Regions from separate parts of the Homo sapiens genome. Here all the other regions are linked to region 1. The links come from fine-mapping of genetic effects on gene expression. A gene starts in region 1. Each other region holds a variant in brackets. All regions are shown on one strand. Distances are between the middles of the regions.

Region 1 (8,191 bases):
CATCCTGGCCAACACGGTGAAACACCATCTCTTCTAAAAATACAAAAAATTAGCCAGGCATGGTGGCATGCAGCTGTAGTCCCAGGTACTCGGGAGGCTGAAGCAGGAGAAACACTTGAACCCAGGAGGCAGAGGTTGCAGTGAGCCGAGATCACGCCACTGCACTCCAGCCTGGCAACAGAGCAAGACTCCGTGTAACAAAAAGAAAAAAAAAAAGTACATATTCCTTTTGGTATAACTGAATGGCAAGAGATGACCTCATTTTTGTGGGATAGTATTTACTCAATTGGTTAATTGCTAAGCCCTTGGCTTTTCCTACCTTTATTTAGATGATAGCAGCTCACACCTCGCCAGAACTGTTTACTTCTCAAAACATGTTTATATGGATTATCTCCACTGATCTTCATGAGAACTCTGTGAGTCTGGTGGGGGTAAGAAGGACCAGTCCTATTTTACAGGTATAAAAACTGAGGCTAGAGCAGGCAAGCGGCTGGCCCAAGGCCGGTGAGAGCCAGGCCTCCCGTCCCGTCCCAGTGCTCTCCCAGAGTTTCCTCCTCGAAGCCTTTCTGAGGCAGTCATTTAGGTGAACCTTCGCTGAAGGCCACTTTCTCACCTTTCCTTCCTTCTCCCTCCAAAAGCTTCTTTCTACCTTTGGGTCCTGTCTCATTTCGCAGTTAAAGATATTATTTTCAGGTCACCTAGGGTTGCTCTTTAGTTCCTGTTTGCTTTTGGTTTGTTACTTGTTTATTTATTTATTTTTATCTATTTACTTATTTTTGAGACAGAGTCTTGCTCTGTTGCCAGGCTGGAGTGCCATGGCGCGATCTTGGCTCACTGCAACCTCTGCCTCCCAGGTTCACGCCATACTCCTGCCTCAGCCTCCCAAGTAGCTGGGACTACAGGTGCACGCCACCCTGCCTAGCTAATTTTTGTGTTTTTAGTAGAGATGGGGTTTCACCATGTTGGCCAGGATGGTCTCAATCTCTTGACTTGGTGATCCGCCCGCCTCGGCCTCCCAAAGTGCTGGGATTACAGGCACGAGCCACCATGCCCAGCCTGTTTTTGGTTTTTTAACTCCAAAATGGAAGATAATCCCAGGCATCTTTAGGCCTCAGAATATTCTTCTTTATTTGACATGAGGTCTAAACCCTAGCATGTTGTTTTCTCTTGAAATTTGAAGTAATTTCTACCACAAGAGAAATTACGTTTGCAAAGGTTCAAGTAAAGTATATTATAAAGCATGAAACTAAACACTTTGGTGTGACACATTTCTGGACTTGGAAGTCAGAGAAGACAGACTTATTTAAGCTACTCGAATTATCTAGAAGAAAAAAGAAACTCAAATTATCTATAACAGAACAGATGCTGGGGAATCTAAGAAGACTGGATGTTGATGTTCTCCTTAGCTTTGTTTTATGAAGGAAGGGAATGTGTTCTGTTAAGAGTGGAATGTTCTCCGGAAGAACTGGAAAAGGTATCAGTGGGCTATGTTCAGGTCCAGAGACAAAAGAGCTGTCAACTTAAACTAACCTGTGCGGTGCCTCAGCTCCTGGACTTACTGGTTGATGCAACCTTAGGGAAAGCCTGTGTGCATCAATTTCCTCATCTTTAAAGTTAGAATCACAGCATCTACCTCATAGGGTTGTGAGGAAAACTAAATTAGCTAGTGGCCAAGAAAATGCTGTGTATACTAAAAATCACTACAAAATATGTAGACTATATATATAGCTTGATAATTTTTAAAGTTTACTGCTCTGGGCAAGGGATGGAGGAGTGAGTTAAAAAGGAACACAGTGTCAGACACAGCAACAGGCAGGTGGCCAGGTTTCTGTAGGCAGAAGAGGATGGAGAGCTCAGGAGTGCATACTAATTGCTGCACCTCTGCTGAGACTACTGGCCAAATGGCTGCCTACCAGAAAACACAGTGTCCCTTTCCATATTAAAGGGCCTCTCCTAACTGGGCTTTCAGCTGCATACAAAACTACGTGGAGTTCTCCATGCATCTGATGGTGCCATTATGAAGATGAACTGTTAACTAAATTGCTTTGGTGGAATATGTATGCTAGGGAAGAGGTAACAGTTTCCCTACAACCATGAATGTCTTCTGGAAAATAAATGATTCTTATTGAGACTTGAAAGACAAATTGTCTGAGAGCAGAAAGGGGTTTACTGGAAAAGAGTGAGTGTATTTCTAAATGAGAGAGAAAAAAAATGTTTCAGAGGAAGGAGCCCCTGCCTTCTGGTGAAGAGTATTCAAGATGAAGATAAACTTTTCAACTTAATATCGAGAGTAATGAGATATTCACTTCCTAAAGAAAACTCTTTAAAGAAACAAAGATGATATCCAATGTGGGCTAGCAAGCCATTTCTGGTGACATTTGTGGAGGGGCTGAAGGCAATTCATTTGGCAGTCAAATCTGAATGAAGTAAAGGATATGGTTAAGAAAGGCACCTGAATTAATGTACATTTTACTTCTTTATAATTTTTTCAGCTTTGATAGCAGAAGGGATCTACTCTTGAAAGTCCAAAAAATGTTGTTGCTATAGGAACAGGTAAGCAGATTAGACTTGAAAGACCAGTTTAGGAACAAAGAATGTAATAGTCAGGGCTAAAGCAATTAACCAAGAAAACATTTTAAGTAAATATCTTTCAGGTTTGTTATTTACATATTAATTCCAGGAAGATTAAATGCTATTATGGAATGAGAGCGTCACATTTTAACATTTTAATTACATCATTACTGGCATAAAAGACTATGCTTACACAATTAGCAGAAAGATCTTATTAAACAGAAGTACATATTTCTAACTCTCTCTTGATTATATTGTAATTGAGAAATACAGTTTTAAATTCATCCTGAGCATGAAAGTCATCTTTGATTTTCCTATAGTTCTCAAGATAGAAGCACATCTAAAATCAAAGAGATACTGAACTACCGAAAGTTTTCTGTAACCAATCTCTATAATGAGGAAGCCACAAAAGTAAAATTCTAGAAGAAAACAGAAATGTGTGTAGGCTGATAATTGTTAATATTGCATGTCTTCCCTGTCCAACAGACTCGGTGAACAAGACATTTGAGAAGAGAAGGTCAAAGACCCAGCTGCACTTCTGCTTCACTGCTGAACTTCTGCTTCTTCCTATCAGGGAATACACTGCTCCTCACATTAGGGATTTCCTAAAATTGTTAGGTGTTTTGAACAGAACTGGCTATACCAATGAGGCTCAAACAAGAATCATAAAGTGCATGGTGCTTCTCTCCCTCTCTGTTTTCTTTAAAAAGAAAACATTCTTGACAAGATGAATACAATATTTTCATTCTAGCAAATTTCTGCTGTCAGAGGTTATATTTACAGGATAGAGAGATTTCTCAAACATGACCTTTTCTCGTGTAATACCAGAGTGAAATTTTAGAAAAGTCTGTGTGTGTGTGATGCGTGCGTGTGTGTGTGTGTGTGTGTGTGTGTGTGTGTGTCTCGCAGGCTGAGAAGTGGGATGGGAAGAAGGGAATGTGGCTAGAATCTTACCATCTCATTCTCTTCTCCTTCATTGAGCAGAGCGTGCTGGCCCTTCTCAAAGTGTCCCATGAAAAAGTTATTCCACACCTCCTCCCTGACCTTGTCGTGCAGACGCTTCCAGGATGAACTCCAACTCGCCGAGCCACCGCAGCTCCTCAGCTGACTAAAAGAGTTAATGATCCTCCAGGTTAAAACTCCTCCTTGAGCACACACCTTCTCTCAACAAATGACAATACTTGGCAAACTGAACTCCTCCCACGAGTCGCCCTCTGCTAGGAGGAATTGCTGGCTGCTCCCTGCTTATTGCATTCTCTCAGAGCAGCTGTCTCAAAGGAGGCTGCTCCCATGCCGATCTTTTTGTGCCCAACTTACAGGGAAAGAACTCATTGCCTGCCCAGTGCCTGCCAGCCTCAGACTTCTGACTGCAAATCCAACAGGACAATACAGAGTTGGCAGGACCCTTCTCAGGAGTGAGGAGCGGGTGCAAGAACTCCCAGGTCACTGCTTTATTCAGAGGACCTAAGGAATTGGGTTGAGCGGAAGCGCACAGAGCTGCAGATTTTCTTTGATGAATGAAAGCTTCAATCCACAGGTTTCTAATAGTACTCTCATTCATTTTGCTTACAAAAGGTACAGATTATCACTAATCCTCTTCAAAAGGTATTTGTAATCACATTTCCTTGTATATGCAAAAAAAATTCTATTTAAAGTGTATGTGAAATTAAGTTTACTTTTTTGAAACACATGTAGAAAAAGAACAAAGGTATCATCAAACTAGTCTATGTAGTCTCCTTTCACTAAAATATTGATGGTTCAACACTTAAGGAAGTCTAGAAATAAAATATTCAAATGACTATATGGCCAGACTCTTTTTTAATTTGTTTACACATTTATTCAATAAACAGTGCCTGAGCACAGGGACTACCTAAAAAAGTTAAGTCATATTTGCTACCCTCGTGTTGATGTAAGGATTCAAACATCCAAACAAATATGATAGAAAGTGGATTGTTATTATAAGAGATGGAACAGAAGTCTAAGAAAACTGTCAGAAGTCCCAATGTGGTGTAGAGAAACACACCCCTACCCTAGCTCTGGCAAAATACCTGTATTCCAGCTGCTTGTCTGCACTGGCCTTGCTGTGTGATCATTTAACTATAGGAACCGGCTCTTCTCATCTGGTACCGCCCGACAGGACTTTTGAGAGAATGGAATGAGATCATTGTGAAAGTACATTGTACAGCACTGATCAAGTGCTGTTAGGATTATTAAACTAAATGTGCATTTGAACAGTAGGTGTTAGGACATAGTGGCTAAGGGCATATACACTAAATTTGGAAGGCCTGAGTTCAAATTTGGACTGTACTAGGTGGTCGTTGTGCTACCTTGGGATATAACAAGTTATACAAACTCCATTCTCCTCTATTTCCTCACATGTAACATAAAGATGATGATAATAGAACCTACGTCCTAAAACAGACTTTTAAGAAAGAGTGCCTGGGAAATAATAGGTGTTCCACAAAAGATAGTTATTTTTACCTTCACCATGTCCACTGTCTGTCCCTCAAGCTACATTGGCAATGATATCTCCAACCTGACCCAAATAACCCTAATGTGACCAAGATCAATGTGTGCATGTGTGTGTGTGTATATGTTGTATGTGTAAAACCTTGAGCAAATAGTGAAGTATAGGATAAACATAAAAAGTAAGCTAAGTAAACCCATTGTAATAGTAATTACAAAATATATATGTACGTGTGTGTGTATGTGTGTGTGTGTGTGTATATATATATGTAGTTCTCTTGGTTTCAAAAATTTGCTAGCACAATTTAACCAAATAAATGAAAATAAAATTAACATTTTATCACAAGGTCAAAATATAAGGAGTAAAGGGTTTATGGGGGGGGTAATAAAAATGTTCTAGAACTACTGATGGCTTCAAAAATTTGTGAACATACTAAACCTCACTGAACTCTATACTTTAAAAGGGTGAATTTTATGAAATGTGAATTATATCTCAATGAAGAGATATAACAAATTTAAAAATCATACCTCAATAAAAAATTATACCTCAAAAAAACCTAACTGAACATTTAACAGCCTTACTAGGCAGTAATTATATATTTAGTACAGAAAAAAATATAAAACAAGCATATTCCAAATTTCATCTCAACTGATGGAGGTTGAGGAGTGTTAGTATGTGACGTGGTGAAACTATATCAGTGCTCCTGGGCAGGTGAGAAAGAAGTAATTCATTCTCCTGTTTATCACTGGCAATATTTGCAGTTTCCTTTTGGCTGGGTTCCTGAATGCACTTGGCAACTCTTGCACCGTTGTGGGATTGAGATGAGTGTGTAACTGATTAACAGCTAGAGGAGAAACTGTACACAAACTTACCCCATCAAATAAATCAGGTCATGCTGCTACAATATTTAAGCTAAACTTGAACAGGAAAATATGTAAGTCCTTAAGAACATTAAAAGCTTTTATAAAAATCAGATGTCCATGGAAAATTATTTTCCACAAACCTGGTTCAATAGAGCTGAGGACTCCAGTAGTGAGAGAGTTTCCTCAGGTTCCTTGGGAGTTCTATTGGTAAAACATCTAGATTTTATCGATGGCAACACTGCTTATGGACAGCACTCACCCTCATTTAGTGATTTTGGTCTACAAACATAACCATAACCAGAAACAGGGCTAGGTTGTGTGGGAAAGCAAAGAGAACATTTACAGAACACTTCCACATATGAGGCACAATTCTAAACAGTTTACACTCACTGTTGCACACAATCCTGACAAAAGCCTCTGTGGTTGATACTATTCTGGTCATTCTTATTTGACAGACAAGGAAACACAGGTGCAGACATTAAGTAATTTGCCTACATTCAAACCATTAGTAAGTGACAGAATGAGTATTCGGACCTAGGCAATGCAGCTCTCCCAATCCGTGATCCTAGTTACTGGACTAATACCTCTTCTACACATTTATTTGGCACATCCAAAGTGCTCTGCAAAGAGGTTTGCATTTATATGACCAGAAAAGCCTCTTTGTGAAGGAAGCATTTTGAGAAAGGCCTTGGAAAGAGCCAAAAATGCTTCAACAGGTGGAGATGCTGAGGCTCGGACAAAGAGTAAGGCCGCAGGAAAGAGCATTTGAAGCAAGGGAATCATCAGAGGAAGAAACACATGGTCATGTTCAGAGCAAGCCCATCAGCCTCACTGCAGCATGGGCTGCATGAAGGAAGAAGAGGGGAGTGACATGTGGCAGGGAAATATGGACCAACGCCATGCATGGAGGTCCTGAATGCCAGGTCTGAGTCTGAGCTTAGTGCACAGAGTGACAATAACATGGAAGGCAAACTGAACTCCATAAATATCCCTACTGTTCCTGATCAGCCTGTGCTCTCATATTATAGGAATCAGGTCCAAAGCGACTCAGTCCTTCTATGCAATACTGTATTTATGTAGACAGTTTTCTTGAACCTTCTAAGTTAAGTCTTCTATTTCTCTTAGGAACATTGTTTGAAAAGTTATTCTTGAATTCACCCTCCCTTTCCTTAATTGTGCCTGTTCAATATTTCTATTCTATACTCTACGTGCCTCACGGGTTGTGATGTGGCGTAGTAAGAATGGCAGATGAGGATTTGGTGTGGTCTGAATTCTAATCTTGACATTTTCCTGAAGGATTCCATTCACTCATTCACTTAGCACTAGTTTGATTAACTTCAGTATGCCCAGATCTGTAATAGATGAAGAATAGAGATTTAATAAATTATGCCCCAGAAAAGTTAAGTCCATTAAGAAACAAGACCAACACCAAAATATAAATTCCACATAATATGCTAATTACACAAGAGTGACAGAGGAACTTCAAGTAGGGAGTTAGGCCAGGAAACCCTCACAAGGATAGGAGTTTTATGCTTGTCTAGATAAATACAGGTGGGAAAGGAAAGCATTATTAACAAAGGAGACAGAGAGCAAAAGCACAGATGAGGGCTCGCACACAGCCCATTCTGGGGGCTACAAATTATACACATATATTGATATCTCAGAATTGAGAGGAATGTCCAAAAGGAAAAGTACCTTCGTTCATTCTCTGATTCTCTCCCTGAACTCATTTTTTCTCAAATACTCTCTCCCAAATAAGAATGGGAACGGAAAATAAAAAGGACAAATACTTAGCTACCTCTGCTGATCTGGCATCTCGGTTTGCTTTTGATTATCTTAGGAGCATGCCTGTTGTTCTGAGCAGTTCTCAACCTCTGTGATTGTCTAGAATAGATGTCCAATGGAAATAATGGCAGGACCGGTTTCTCTGCCAGGGCCGTGGGGATGCTGATGCTTCACTTGTCTGGCCCATTTAGGTTTTGTGATGATAAATGGTAATAATGTTTCATTATATGTTAATTTCCATCTTTCATCTGAGAACTCACAGCATATTACAAATATTGTTTTTTGCAACATCTCTGTGAAGTAGGGAGGTGAGTAGTATCATTGCTCCCATTTGAAAGCTGTAGGAACTGAGTCATAAAGAGGTCACAAAGAGCTGTTCAAGGTCATGTGTCTTTACCATGGAGAGGAACCTGAAACAAGTGCAATATCTCTGCCTTGTCATCACTGGCAATAAGCTGACTCAGTCTTCCTCCTCAGCCCTCATTACACAAATCTGCTATTTGTA
Region 2 (8,191 bases), 120 kb before region 1:
TCAAAGACATATAAAGATCCAAGGGGAGAGTATTTTAGGCAAAAGGAATAGCCAATGCAAGGGTACTTGAGTTGACCACAGCTTGACAATGTACTAGAGACAGTAAGACCAGTACAGCAGTCACATCAGTGAGTGGCAATGTGGGTAGAGGTGAAGTTGGTGAAGTAGTCAGGAGCCCAATCATATAAGACTTGAATTGAGTCAAAATGGGAAGCATTGGAGCATTTTAAGCAAGAGAATGAATAATAAAATTTATATTTAAAAACAATACTCTTACTATTGTGTAAATGGGAATGAGGAGAGGGCAGCAACAGTGGAAGCAAGATCAGCTATAAAGTTGTTACAGTAATGCACAAGGGAGCTGGCATTGCTTAGTGACTAATGATGGCGGCTACATTGAAAATGGAGGGGGGGAATCACAGTACGTTTTGGAGGCAGTGCTAACAGAAATTTCAAATGTATAGGATGTGATGGGTGAAGAAACAAGAAAAATAAAGGATGACTCTAGTTATTTGACTTGAACAACTAGGTAGATAACAGTGCAATTCCAGTAGAATGTAAGCTCCATAAGGAAAGAAATCTTGTTTTGTTTCACTGATGTATTATTCTAAGTTCCTAGATCAGTAAGTAGCACAAACTAGGGACTCAGTAAGTACATAATGATTATATTGAATATCAGATCTGGGGGAATTAAGAGTTCTGTTTGAGAATGTGAAGTTTAATTCCTATTAAATACCCATGGTTAGATGCAGAGTAGCTACATTTCCAGAGCTTTGGATGGACATCAAGGCTGGAGATATAAATTTGGGATTCATCAGCAGATAGATAATATTAAAGTCATGGGGCTGGTTGAGATTACTTATGGAGATGGTATAGGCTGAAAAGACAGCGGATCCAAGAACAAGACTTGAAATACTCCAAAAGTTAGAGAACAAGTATATTTGCAAATTGCTCACTACACATTTCTTTTCAGTAAAGTTACTTGTTTCTATATATGCATGTGTGTGTGTGTGTGTGTGTGTGTTTACTATATATAAATATGCTTCCAAATATATATGGGTGTGTATGTGTATATGTGGGTATATATACATTTATATATACACACATATATATGTTTCTATATATATTTATATATACACACATATATATGTTTCCCATATATATATATGTTTCCATTATATATATGAAAACAAGTAAATATATATGTATATTCAAACTGTTTTGGGGAGCAACATGTTAAACATTTGCAAGTATACCACTGCCTCCTACTGAACAACTGCATAAGCCCAAAATTCAAATTCATGCCCCTGGATGTTAGAATCTGGCTAATGGAAATGGAATGGTAGTAGAATTAGGGATGAGAATGGAGAAAGTGGGTATACATAACTGTTTGGGAAGTTTAAGAATAAAGGAGGCAGTAGCTGGTGGTAGATTCAGGGTCAAATAAGAATTTTTAAAAGAAAGAAGATATGAGAATGTATTATATGCCATCATTGGGAATGATCTAGTAAACAAGAGAAAGGTTGATAATAATGGAGAAATAGATTATTAGACGAATAAAATCCTTGAGAAGGTTGGAGGAAGTAGGAGTAAAAGCATAAATGGAACCACTACAAACCTATTAGAATGGCCAAAATCCAGAACACTAACAATACTAAATGCTGGTGAGTATGTGAAGCAACAAGGACTCTAAATCATTGGTAGTAGAAATGCAAACTAGTATAGCTGTTTGGAAAGACAGTTTAGAGGTTTCTTACAAAACAAAACTTATTCTTACTACATAATCCTTTACCCAGTGAAAATGAAAACTTATTTCCACTCAAAAATCTGCACACGGATGTTTATAGCAGCTTTATTTACAGTTGCCCAAACTTGGAAGCAACTAAGATATCCTTCGGTAGGTGAATGAATAAATCAACTGTGGTACATACAGACAATGGAGTATTATTCAGCACTAAAAAGAAATGAACTATCAAACTATGAAAAGACATAGTTGAACCTTAAATGCATATTACTAAGTGAAGAAAAGCCCATCTGAAAAGCCTATATATGATTCCAACTATATAACATTCTAGAAAAGCCAAACAAACCTGCATGTTGTGCACATGTACCCTAGAACTTAAAGTATAATAATAAAAGAAAAGAAAAGAAAAGAAAGGCCAAAACTACTGAGACGGTAAAAGATCACAGTGGTTGCCAGGAGCTTTGGGGAAGTGGGGAAGATGACTAGGCAGAGCAGAGGATTTTTAGGGCAGTGAAAATATTCTGTGTGATAATATAATGATGGATACATGTCATTATACATATGTTCAAACCCATAAAATGTGCAAGACCAGGAATGAACTGTAATGTAAACGATGGACTTTGGATAATAATGATGTTATTATTAATTGTTTCTCACGAAATGCTTTCATTGAGTTTTGCCAAACTCTTGTGTCCATAATCAACCTATGATTGCAATTGATGACTGAATTAGTTTCAACATGAATGTTGGTTGAGATTTTCCTTTAGCTGAGCTAGTAAGACAAAAGCAAAACAACAAAGACATGTCAAAACTTCAATCATTCATCAATAGAATTTCATCAGTTACAACAAATATACCACTTTGTGAGGAACGCTGATAGTAGCAGAGGCTATGTATGTGTTTGGGAAGGAAGTACATGGGAAATCTCTGTACCTTCCTCTCATTTTTGTTGTGAACCTAAGACAGCCCTAAAAAAGAATAAAGTCAAAAATAAAAAAATTTTCCATTGCAGGAACATTAGGGAGACAATTTATTCATTAGAAGGTGGAGGGTAAGAGAGGTATAATGGCAAGATTACCTTTAAGCTTCATTCTAAATCCTGAGAGGCTAAGATTTAGGTATGAGAAATATAAAAGCCATTTGGCTCCTATAAATTGGGTACATTTTAACTATAACTGTATCTAAAAGCACTCTGAAGTTAGTGTTCCTGATTTTCAAGCTGCTTTTTTCATTTTAAGTGTTTAGTGACCATTTATAGAAGTTCCACATTTTGCAGAAAACAGCAAAATAACGAGCAAGCTTTTCTTTTGCTAATACTTTCTTGCAATACTTAAAAATGAGGATTCTATTTCCTCTCTGTGTATATATTTGGGAATAAATTCCAGATCATTGCTGCTGTTGCAGCTGCTGTTCCTCATGGTAGACAAATCTTTCCAAGGCAGAGGGAGGGCAGCTGAGGGTAGCACCTCTGGTAAGAAAGTTTTAAAATGTCTTACTTGTTACACCAATAAGAGTTGTAATGGCCAGATCCTGGAACAGAAACTGGTAATTTGAAAGGCTGTTTGTCTCCTGAAAATAAAAAGAAAGCAGATCAAAAAAGTTGTGACCTTCTGGATGAAATTAGATATTGATTACATTTATTTTCTCACTGTGACATAGGGTTTTTCAAGTAAATTACTGTGGAGATGCTGTGTTCGGGGCCTGGTTGAGTTGGTGAGTGATGGTGTTGGTGGAAGTAATCAAAGCCAAACCTGTGAAACCCTCTCTATGCAGGGGGCCTATCATCATGTGCTTTCAGGGTGGGATTGTTTGTGCATCCTTATTACTTTGTTGAGGAGGACATCTTCCCCTACCAGATTCATCTCTGCTCTCTTTTCTACTTGTTAACAGAAAATTTAGGATTTCATTTCACACAATAAAAAAATACATCCCCAAGTGACAAATGTGTGGTAACCTTACATAAGTTTTACTGATGGAAAATAAGAATAAGTAAACTCACTATTTGCATTCTTGAATGTTTTTAGACAAAATTTTAGAAAATCCTAGCAAAACATCTTAATAGTCTAGAGGAAAAAGTGCTATGTCTTACTGATTTTAAGAAACTCACTCACTTTCTTGCTCCCCACCCCTTAGTGGAAAGGAGATAATGTTCAATGTTTAATTCTACTTTTGAGTATAATTTGGGAATTCTAAAATAGAGGCCAATTTCCAGAAATAGCCTATCCTTCTCTAGCCCATTTATCAGTGAGTAGGAAAAGATATAGTTTATC[G/T]GAGAGCAATAGAACTAAAATCTTTAACCCAGGAAAAAGAAGGCAGTATATAAAGATGAATCTGGATATCTGCCACACAGATATCCAGACGAACTTTCTTTCCTTGGTGTTGGTTAATACGGTAATCTCACATGTTGAGTTCACAGATGATGTGCATGTTTTTTTCTCTTTTTATATCTTGGTAAATAAAAAAAAGTGATCACAAGACCTATGTATTTTTGTGGTATGATATGCCAGTTTTCACATCCCTATATTCAGGGAACCAGTGGCATGCTGGCTTATACTAACACTTAAAAGTCAATTGCTAAATTTTCAGAGATGTTGTGAGCTGGTTGTTAAACAAAGCCAATACAAAAACTTAAATTATACAAGTGTACCATTAAATAAATTATACTAAAACCAAAGTTAATAAATACTCAAAGCTCAGCTATTTCTAAATATTTTTCTACATTTTACTGCTATCTCTGCCCTTAAGGTTATTTACGACTCTTGTATCTATATGGGGCAAGTATTATAGAATCATATGCTACTATACATCTTTCCCCACTTCATGTTCAGTGACAATAGGCAGACAGCTTGCAACTGGTTATGGTAGGAGTATTTACGCCACTGAAATGGGCAAACATTAATAATCAGGTCTTTTTTTTCATGCTAAATGAAGCATTTAGCAACACCCCAATGCAGAGAACCATTTCTTTAGTGAGTGGTAGACTAGGGTAGAGCCACGTTGCAATTAAGAAGATAAAGACCTTGTCCAATCAGGTAAAAGTAGCAGCAATATATTCAGTGGTGATTTCAGCTATTACTAGATAAAAGGTTTCTACATCAGAGAATTGACATCAGCAACTTTTCCTGTACAAATCTGTCTATTTGTGATTTACTTTACAAATTCTTAAGGATATTTTTGGAGGGGCTGTTGTTGTTCAGATATCCTATTTGTACTCTTTCTTTGAGAGGCATTGTAAATTGAGAGTGCACCGCTACTTGTTTTAGTTCACACTAACCAAGAGGCTAAGTCCCAAGTCATACCCAGTAGAGCAGCAGAACACCAACATACTGAATCATGCTGTACAGAGCCATGTACTTAAACATGCAAAAGGAGGTAACGAGAGCTGCACGTCCTTCCCTGTGTAAGAAAAGAAATGATAAAGACATGAAAGTAATGAAAAGACATAAGGTCAGTCATTCTGTGCTGTTCAGCTAAGCTCAGGAGAAAAAAAATCAAAAGTCATTATACGACTGTCTGTCTGAAAATGGACAGCCCTGAGCTCATGGATGCTGGCTGTCAGTAAACTACACAACCCAATTTTCAAGAAAGGCCAATTCCAGGCCAAGGTCCAAGGGCCTTGATCTGGTGATGGAGTCCAGATTTACAGTTGCTCTTGTCCTTTCAGCAGGCATTGTTTTAGCTCCTGAACTCAGATCAGTGGAGCTAGTGCCAGATCTTCTACCTATTCACTAATGAGATGCAGAAGATCATTTCCCTTGTCTCAGTTTCTTCATCTGTGAACTAATGGATTTAAATAAAATTCCAGATTCAGGGGTTATTTTCATACAGGAGCTTCAGGAGCTTGGCAAGCATTTGATTCAAATTTCATTTTGGCAGTCCCAACTTTTTCTAAAACTGGACCAAAACAATACACACTCAAATTAGTCATATATCAAATTGAAATAGGCTGGAAATGATGAGCATTTTCATTTGTGTTATTGTTGATTGATTTGAATAAATAGTACACATTTAAAGCATGAAATAGATGACACATGAAATGTCACTTTTATCTTCTATTTCATTCGGTGAAAAATAAAGTTTAAGTTACACTTTTTAAATTTAAATTATACTTTTTTTTTTGTCAGAATCTTGCTTAGTCACCCAGGCTGGAGTGCAGTGGCATGATGTCAGCTCACTGCAACCTCTGCCTACCAGGTTCAAGTGATTCGCCCGCCTCAGCCTCCTGAGTAGCTGGGACAACAGGCATGCTCCACCAGGTCTAGCTAATTTTTTTTTGTATTTTTAATAGAGACTGGGTTTCATCACGTTGGCCAAGCTGGTCTCGAACTCCTGACCTCAAGTGATCCACCCACCTCGGCCTCCCAAAGTGTTGGGATTACAGCCATGAGCCACCACACCCAGCCTAGATCATACTTCTTTAAGTTTAAACTCATGCCCACTATGATGTCCTAGGGTGTTAAAACCTGATCCCCGGGGCCGGGCGCGGTGGCTCACGCCTGTAATCCCAGCACTTTGGGAGGCCGAGGCGGGCGGATCACGAGGTCAGGAGATCGAGACCATCCCGGCTAAAACGGCGAAACCCCGTCTCTACTAAAAATGCAAAAAATTAGCCGGGCGTGGTGGCGGGCGCCTGTAGTCCCAGCTACTTGGGAGGCTGAGGCAGGAGAATGGCGTGAACCCGGGAGGCGGAGCTTGCAGTGAGCCGAGATCCCGCCACTGCACTCCAGCCTGGGCGACAGAGTGAGACTCCGTCTCAAAAAAAAAAAAAAAAAAACCTGATCCTCAAACCAGGTTTTTTTCTGTATCAGAGTTTTGCCGTGACATTTCCTCTGCCCAGAGGTAGTTTCTCCTTATTGCTTAGAGAGGTTCTCTAAGCAATAAGGAGAGGTTCTCCTTAGAGAGGTTTTCCCATACCACCCCATCTGAAGCAGCTGCTTCCACCTATATAGCCATCTTATTCCCTTTTACCCTTTTTATTTCCTGGACAGCACCTATCAAAATCAGTAGGTATCATCCTTATCTCCCTTAGTTTCTGGCACTAAATGCCTACTCACTAAAGATTTGTCAAATGCATGAATAAATAAAAAATTGGGAGGACCTAGCCAAATTATTATTTTTATGTGGTGGAAATAGTATATCTGTAGATAAAATACATTTGAATAAAATTAATTCTAAGACAATCTCTAACCTCATATGGTTGTATGAGCTTGGGCACATCAATTAAATTTTCTGAACTTCAATTGTTTTGTTTGTTAAAAAAATAGCCATTCCTGCATCTCCAGGCTGTTTTGAAGTGTGAGATAGTAGGCATTATAGCATTTTTAAACTAGAAACACATGTCAGTTACAATAACCAAGAGCAGCCACCATGCTCACTATCTCTATCATTCAAATATAATGGAGCAGAAGTACATTTTCGGCAGGGTGGTGGGGGACATCAAAGCAAATTTTAGTGAGAGCAGCAAAAGCCAATAAAGATTTTTTTTTTTTTTTTTTTTTTTTGAGACAGAGACTTGCTCTGTTGCCCAGGCTGGAGTGCAGTGGCACAATCTTGGCTCACTGCAATCTCCACCTCCCAGGTTCACACCATTCTCCTGCCTCAGCCTCCCAAGTAGCTGGGACTGCAGGAGCCTGCTACCACGCCCAGCTAATTTTTTGGTATTTTTAGTAGAAACGGCGTTTCACCATGTTAGCCAGGATGGTCTCAATCTCCTGACCTCGTGATCTGCCCACCTCGGCCTCCCAAAGTGCTGGGATTACAGGCGTGAGCCACTGCGCCCGGCCAAAGATTTTGAAAACTTTATTTTTCAAATAAAAATTGAAAAGGAGATAGTTACATTTGAAAAATGGGGATGATTGACACTTTCAAAGCAATAACAAGTTCCAGATTCCAATCTTCTAAAAATAACCTAATCAGTGAATTCACTGGAAATGCCACTGCTCTCCCAATGTTATTGTTAACTTCTGGAAAATCCATTTGGAAGTAGAATGCTTGACTGCATTCTTCCACAAAACACCCTCCGCACCCAGGGACAGAAAGTTTCTCTAGTCTTTCCCAGGCAGAACAATGTGATTTGCACCAGAAGTCAAGAGAGAGAAAACAATGTTTGAGGAAGTGCCTACTTACTTGATAAGGTGAGGTACGCACTCAATGTTTGGAGTTTTGGAAGTGAAAGGTGAGGCCACAGATGCCTCCTGCTCTGATAATGAGATGCCCACATGAGCCATTTTCAGAGCCTGAAAGCAAAGAATCAGCTTACTCCTCACATAGACTCACGTACGTCTCTACTAAAGCCTCATAAGAAAAGGCCAGTTAAGCTGGCCACAAGGTGGTTTGTGTGCCCAAACTCTAACCAAGAGACTTAACCCTGCCTGGAACATGAGAAAAAGATGGCATTAGGATACCTAGCCAAAGAAATGAGAACTCCAGAACCAAATTCTACTCTGT
Region 3 (8,191 bases), 27 kb after region 1:
TCTCTCTGAATAGAGAATATGTTTTAATGGAGTAAATTCTCAACTTTCAGACTGCAAACTCAAGTGCATAATAAATATTGCATTTCTTGGGCTAGGTGCGGTGGCTCACTCTTATAATCCCAGCACTTGGGAGGCTGAGGCGGGTGGATCACTTGAGGTCAGGAGTTCAAGACCAGCCTGGCCAACATGGTGAAACCCTGTATCTACTAAAAATACAAAAAGTAGCCAGGTATGATGGTGTGTGCTGTAATCCCAACTACTCGGGAGGCTGAGGCAGGAGCATTACTTGAACCGAGGAGACGGAGGTTGCAGTGAGCCAAGATCACACCATTGCACTCTAGCCTGTGCAACAGAGTGAGACTCCATCTCAGAAATATCTATATCTATATCTATATCTATATCTATATCTATATCTATATCTATCTATCTATCTATTGCATTTATTTAAATAGACTTAATTTTAACTCTACACCTTCACTTAGTTGGTTTCTGGGAAGCAACTGCTGCCATTTTGGTGGTTCTCTCAGTATGAAAAATAAAATTAGGTCATTCTCCCATTATAGAGAGTGTGGTGATTCATTTTGTGTGTCAACTTGACTGGATTAAGAGACACCATGACAGTTGGTAAAGCATCACTTCTGGGTATATCCATGAGGATGTTTCTGAAAGAGACGGGTTTTTGAAGCAGTAACTGAGTAAGGGAGATTTGCCCTCACCCAGTGTGGGCATGCACCATCCAGTCACTGAGTTCCTGGACAGAACAAAAAGGGAGAGGAAAGGAACATACCCTCTGTCTGTCTGTCTGTCTGTCTCTCTCTCTTTCTTCCTCTCCCTCTTTCTCCTCCCAGGAGCTGGACACCCATCTTCTCCTATGCTTGGACATTAGAACTCCACATTCTCCCCATTCCAACCAGAAACTGACACAAATACTATTGTGGCTGGGTTGTAGCCAGTTTTCTTAATGTACATGCTGATTTCCTTAATTATTTCCTCCTATCTCTTCTGACTGTAGGATGGCTCAGTGGAATCCATTTTGTCAACTCCAACAATTAGTTTTTTCACACCCTGTGTGTAAGGCAGAAGGGCATGATCACAGGTCTGTCCGGTTTTGGAGATACCAGCTTCAAAGTTGCCAACACCAGCAGCAATAATCAGGACAACACAGCCCACCTGATATGTCCCTGTAATCACGTTTTTGATAAAGTCTCTGTGGCCTAAGGCAACAGCGATAGTCACTTGCTGGTCTCAAATTTCCAAACAGAGGTATCAATGGTGAGTAATATCACATTCACACTCAGCATTCAGTTTATCCAATACCCAGGAATAGTTGAAGACACTCTTTCCCATCTCAGCAGCCTCCTTCTCAAATTTTTCAGTGGTTCTTTCTTGATGCCACCACGTGTGTAGATTGGATGGCCAGTAGTGGTGGACCTGCTCGAATCTACGTGTCCAATGGTGACAATGTTGATATGAGTCTTTTTCTTTCCCATTTTGGCTTTTAGGGGTGGTTTTCATGACACCTGTGTTCTGGAAGCAAACCTGCTGCAATGGGAATATATATGTATTGTAATATATATATATATATTCCTATTCTTACTATAGGTAGTGTTTTTGGTGGCAGAGTTAGGCAGTCTAAACATCACTCTGTGTTTTCCACTATTGTTCCCAGTTTTACTTATGGTTAAATTGGCCATATGACTAGGTTCTGGCCTACAGGATGTGGGGAGAAATGAAGTAAGTCATTTCTATGCCAGCCCTTACAAATCATGTCAGACAATCCGTGCTCTCCAAAGTGACCTTGGAAGCCACGTTTCAGATGGTGTAGCTGGGAACAACCTGGGTCTTGCGTCTCCTGCTCAAGCAGCATATCCCATTCTATCTCAACTGATAGAATCACTGAATGCACACTATGTGCCAAGCACTACTCTAAGTGCCCATACGTTAACTAATTTTATAATGAGATACACATATTAGCAAATATCATAACATCATGGTAATAGAATGATACAGAAGGACATGCCTAAAATGGCATTGAACCTCAAATCTACCACACATATCCTTCCAGTATTTCTTCCCCATTCTTTCTGCTTGTCTAAATCTCACCCTAAATTTTATTTCAGTTAAGGAACAAAGTGGTAAACTGGATATGTTAAAGTAAAAAGGAAGAAGTTCTAGCGTGTGTGTTTATTTTATATAAATATGTGAATCCAATCTATTTATTAAGAGCTTCTTGAGAGCTGTGGATTCCTACAACCTCTCCTGCTGATATAGCCTGGTAAATTGACTACTGAAAGTGGATTAATTTTGTCTTCTCTAAATGCAAGCACCACTGCTGTTTAGGTGGGCCTCCAAACTGGGAGACAGTAAGTCCCATTGTCCTGGTGGTGTTTGTGAGTTGGACCAGGATTATAGCAGTTGTAGCAGGATATAGCCTCAACTTGGTTTATCTTGGCCCTTCCTACCACCAAGGATTCTTAGGACCATACAAAGTATGAGAGAGAAAGGAGACTGTCAACAGCTTGTGACAAAGAGCAGCAAAGATGTGGGAGCTGGTCCTTCTGCAAGGCACACAATTCAACTCACTCTTACAGAGGAGGGTGCTAGCAAGCTAGTATACGTACTACTAAGAAGAATCACCATGCAGAATTACTCAAAGCCTAGTATATATATTTTTTTATTGTACAGGCCAAGTTACAGAATAGAATGAAGGTAGGGATTATGTTTTTAGTCTAAAACAGAAGCAAAGAGGAAATGAACCAGAGTGTGGAGCAAAAAATACCTGCGAGTAGGGGGAGAAAAACCTCAGAACCGGTGAGCGGGGAGGAAAGGAAAGGTACGGTTTTGAACATGACATTGGCTTAAAAGATTATAAATTGTAAGAGGCATAGAAACTTCAAAACAGAAAGAAAAAACTAAATTGCAAAAGCTTTTAATGATGGGAAGGTTGAAATAGAGTGAAGAAAAGCAGTGTTGTGCTGCTCAAACAATGGTGTATGGGTAATCGTTTAACAACTGGCTCTTCCAAAAATGATGTGTTCATATGCATAAGTTTCTTATACATTTTACTATGAATAAATGCTTCATTACTATCAATCCTATCTATTTCAACAAAGAAGTTGCTCACATCGTTAACCTATGAGTTTAGCTCTGACATGAATATGGGTTGTATTTTCCGATACATTAGTGAGTAAGAGAAAAGTAAAACAATGAAGATGTACATTAGGAAAATTTAAATTAATGATGATGTGCAAGACTTCTTTACTGAATTAGATAATAGTGTTCAAATACTGAAAGAATATTGTCTCAATTATGTATGTTATTCACAATGTAAAACCACAGACAGAACACACTTTAAAATTTAATCTGTAGTGTTATTTTTTTCCATCACTTTCTTAAGATTAGACAATCAACGAAAAACAAATCAAGCCCTGATTTGTAGTGCGTGCTGATTTCTATGGTGGAAATACTGCCACCATGACTAGTTTCAAGCTATACCAGCAACATGTCACTGAACGCAGAGTTAGAAAGAGAGGCGCAATAGCACCTCATTATATGTATAGCGTTTCCACCATACAAATGCAATGGACGTGATAACCACGTGCCTAGAAAATAATTCCTTATGCTTAGTAGTCACAGGTAATCTCTGAAGTCCCCCAAATTCCTAGCATTCCTAATCCCTTTGAATCTGATGAATCTGATTCTGTTTAGGTGGCAGGAATTATTGAGGCGCCTGAGACCTCTCAAGAGAGTGTTAGGAAGGGACACTTAAGGGAAAA[CACTT/C]ACCTCTTCCTGATCTCTGGGAATGTCTCTCCTCCCATGTTTGCTTCTCCAAGACCCTCTCTTCTACTCCAGGCCTCCCAGCAAAATCTGGTTTTCTTATAAAACCAGAAGAGCCTTGAATTGCCAACATTTCTCCTGCTAACATCCCCAAGGCAAGGTTACAAAAGCTGGCTGTCTTTTCGATGAGGACAGAAAAGAGAAGTCTGGAAAACATAACATAAACCGAGAATGCATCTCACTTCAGCAGTTGGTACAGCTGAAGCAAGGCTTCAGTGTGAATGCTGACAATGGGGTCACATGTTCTCAGTCAATAACATATTAGATTAGCAGTCCCTGGTGCAGATTTTCTAATTAATTACTAAAATACCTGAAAAGACTTCCATATATATATATATATATATATATAATATACACATATATACTTACATATGTATACTTTTCTTTTCTTTTTTTTTTTTTTTTTTGGCGGAGTTTTCCTCTTGTGGCCCAGGCTGGAGTGCAATGGCATGATCTCAGCTCACTGCAACCTCCCCCTCCAGGGTTCAAATGATTCTCCTGCCTCAGCCTCCAGAGTAGCTGGGATTACAGGCGCACACCACTACGCCCAGCTAATTTTTTTATTTTTAGTAGAGATGGGGTTTTACCACGTTGGCGAAGATGTTCTCCATCTCCTGACCTTGTGATCCGTCCGCCTCAGCCTCCCAAAGTGTTGGGACTACAGGCGTGAGCCACCGCACCTGGCCATATGTATACTTTAATATATGCATGTACATATAATATATACATGTATATACTTATAAGTATACATTAATAATATATGTACATTATATATTATTACATATATTATATGTATTATATATAATACATATAATATATATTACATATATTATATATGTATATTACATGTATATTATATATGTATATTACATACATTATATATGTATATTACATACATTATATATGTATATTACATATATATTATATATGTGTATAACATATATAATATATATGTATATTACATATATAAAATATATATGTATAATACATATATAAAATATATATGTATATTACATATATAAAATATATATGTATATTACATATATAAAATATATATGTATATTACATATATAAAATATATATGTATATTACATATATAAAATATATATGTATATTACATATATAAAATATATATGTATATTACATATATAAAATATATATGTATATTACATATATAAAATATATATGTATATTACATATATATAAAATATATATATGTATATTACATATATATAAAATATATATATGTATATTATATAGATATAAAAAATATATATGTATAACAATGAAAACCCTCTAGCCAGTATCATAAAGGAATAATCACTGTGGAGCAGAATTGAAGGGCATAGTTATGGTCAATACGTACTTTACTACATAAAAATAAAGAAGGGGCTGGGTGCAGTGGCTCAAGCCTGTAATCCCAGCACTTTGGGAGGCCAAGGCAGGCAGATCACCTGAGATCAGGAGTTTGAGACCAGCCTGGCCAACGTGGCGAAACCCCGTCTCTACTAAAAATACAAAAATTAGCTGGGATTGGTGGCGGGCGCCTGTAATCCCAGGTACTCAGCAGGCTGAGGCAGGAGGATTGCTTGAACCCAGGAGGCGGAGGTTGCAGTGAGCCGAGATCATGCCACTGCACTCCAGCCTGGGAGACAGACTCCATCTCGAAAAACAAAAATAAAATAAAATAAATAAATAAATAGTAAGATGACAAGAAAAAACAAGATGATAGCTGTAAAAAATATTGTATCAAATAATAGAAGGAGATCTCATATGCAGAGATGTAGCCTAGTACCTGGTACACTAAATCAGTATTTACTATGCATGTAATCATAATAGTTGTTACAGTAGAAAGATCCAAAGGAAGATTGTATCTTTGAATTTATTACAGGGACAAGAAAAAAAATCAGACAATAAGTTGGCATTTCAATACAATGAAAGAAGCTTGACCTCTAAGATACAAGCACAGAAAGCAATAAAAATAAGTAAAGGAAATATTTCAAATTTTATAATTCAAGAGTAAATCCTTAAAACTACTTAAAAAGCAGGAAAAGGCAAAAGTGTCACTGCAAAACAAAATGAAATTTGTGACATGCAGTAGATTGCAGAAAAGGTATAAAAATTGTTCTTTTAAAAAATGATAAATATAGAAGATTTCTAAACAAAGATTAGAAGTACAATTTGAAAACTACAGCTAGTTTCAGGTGTGGCTGGATAAACTGATTCTTTCCTCCCCTTTCCCCAACCCATCACACTCACACACTCCATATCAGAAAGAAATCATTAAAATAATTTCACTGGAGCTGCGTAGTACACAGAATAACGCTTCCCACAAAGAAGTCTGAATCCTAATCAGAAGCTGTGCATGTGGCAAAGGGTAATTAAGTTTGCTGACCAGTTGACCCTAGAATAGGAAGATTATCCTCGATTATCTAGGTAGGCTGATCAAATCACACGGATGCTTACATGTGGAAAGCGGAGGTGGAAGGATTAGCATTGGAGTGATGTGGTGTTGGAAAGGTTTGACCAGTCACTGCTGGCTTTGAAGATGGAAATGAGACACAAGCAAAGAAATGTGGGTGGCCTCTCAAAACTGGAGAAGGAAAAATAAAAAAGGATTCTTCCCTAGAGACCCATTTCTTATTTCTGACCTTCAGAACTATAAGATAATAAATTTGTTCTGTTTTAAGCCACTAATTTGGGGTAATTTGTTACAGCAGCAATAGGAAACGAATACCAGCTGAAATCAATTCTACACAGCACACAAGGCTCTTTGCCTGTTATGCTCATTTTCTGCTCCTCATCTCTATACTAATGAGGCTGCCTTCTGTTGGGTCCATTTCACTTTTCTTCTATTTTTTTTTTTAACAAAAAAAGATACATTTTAAAATGTTTAATGTAAACTTTCAATACATGCAAAGTGAACAGAAAAGTATAATGAACTCTCATATACCTACTGGGCAGCTTCCATGGTTATTAACATTTTGTGATTCTTGCTTCATCTAACCTCTACCCACTTCCCATCCTCCTCATGTAATCATTCTTCATAGCTTTTTAATGTAAAATGTACACATGCAAATCTACAATTTTAAATGAACAAATCTTCGCTATACATTTTGACAAATGGATGTGTTCATGTAACTGAGACTTCTATCATGATATGGAATGTTCCCATGTTTCTAGAAAGTTCCCCAATGTTCCTCCCCACTCTCCATATCTATTTTTCCTGGTCTAGAGCATCATATAAATGGATGCTCTAAATCAAGCTTGTCCATCCTGCAGCCTGCAGGCTGCATGCGGCCCAGGATGGCTTTGAATGCAGCTGAACATAAATTCGCAAACTTTGTTACTGTTTCTTAAAACATTATCAGTTTTGACCAGGCACGGTGGCTCACCCCTGTAATCCCAGCACTTTGGGAGGCAAAGGTTCGTGGCTCACTTGAGATCAGGAGTTTAAGACCAGACTGACCAACATGGTGAAACGTCATCCCTACTAAAAATACAAAAAAATTAGCTGGGTGTGGTGGCAGGCACCTATAATCCCAGCTACTCAGAAGGCCAAGGCAGGAGAATCACTTGAACCCAGGGGGCAGAGGCTGCAGTGAGCTGAGATCGCGTCATTGCACTCCAGCCTGGGCAACAAGAGCAAAGCTCTGTCTCAAAAGAAAATAACAACAACAACAACAACAACAAAACAAAAAACATCAGGTTTGTTTGTGGGTTTTTTGCAATTTTTTTTTTGTAGCTCATCAGCTATTGTTAGTTTATTTTATGTGTGGCCCAAGACAATTCTTCTTCCAATGTGGCCCAGGGAAGCCAAAAAATTGGACACCCCTGTTCTAAATGTTTATATGGTACATTCTTTTTTGAGTTCAGCGCGTCTGTTAGATTCATTCGTGTTGTTACATGTATCCGCAGGTCATTCTGTTTGTTGTTGAGGAGTATTTCATTGTGTAAATTTCCTTTCATTTTCTCACTGCTGCACGTTTCATTTGGCTCCAGTTTTCAATTACCGTGAAAAAGTCGCTATGAACATGTTTGTACAAGACTTTCCATGAACACGTTTTTACTTCTCCTAGATAAATCCCTGAGAGTGGAATGGTTAGACCAAAGGGGAAGTGTATATTTAACTTTATAAGAAAATGCCAAATATTTTTCCAAAGTGGTCGTGCCATTTTACATTCCTGCCATCGGTTATTGACAGTTCTGGTTGCTCCACATCCTCGACAAAATTTTCATTTCTCCGATGACTAATAACATTGAGCACTTTGTGTTCATTGGCCAAATATGTATATAAAATATATATATATCTGTATATGTATACACACATACACACACACACACACACACACAC

What was found.
Region 2: its variant is fine-mapped to the expression of ATP13A4 in whole blood (TOPMed, PIP above 0.99).
Region 3: its variant is fine-mapped to the expression of ATP13A4 in whole blood (TOPMed, PIP above 0.99).

Annotation. Positions count from the first base shown.
Region 1 is chr3:193,551,215-193,559,405 of GRCh38, forward strand. ATP13A4 (ATPase 13A4) reads right to left here and starts at 3,681. Exons shown (of 30, transcript NM_032279.4): 1 at 3,526-3,681. The coding sequence starts at 3,585. ATP13A4-AS1 (ATP13A4 antisense RNA 1) reads left to right here and starts at 1,999. Exons shown (of 2, transcript NR_121666.1): 1 at 1,999-2,073; 2 at 3,556-4,370.
Region 2 is chr3:193,430,605-193,438,795 of GRCh38, forward strand. ATP13A4 (ATPase 13A4) reads right to left here. Exons shown (of 30, transcript NM_032279.4): 23 at 7,871-7,980; 24 at 5,044-5,140; 25 at 3,241-3,313. Among named protein-coding and RNA genes, the nearest start is that of ATP13A5, 56 kb to the left of the region's middle. The variant G/T (reference allele first, on the strand shown) is at 4,015.
Region 3 is chr3:193,577,924-193,586,114 of GRCh38, forward strand. It overlaps a transcript of ATP13A4 not described here and the pseudogene EEF1A1P23. Among named protein-coding and RNA genes, the nearest start is that of OPA1, 11 kb to the right of the region's middle. The variant CACTT/C (reference allele first, on the strand shown) is at 3,777.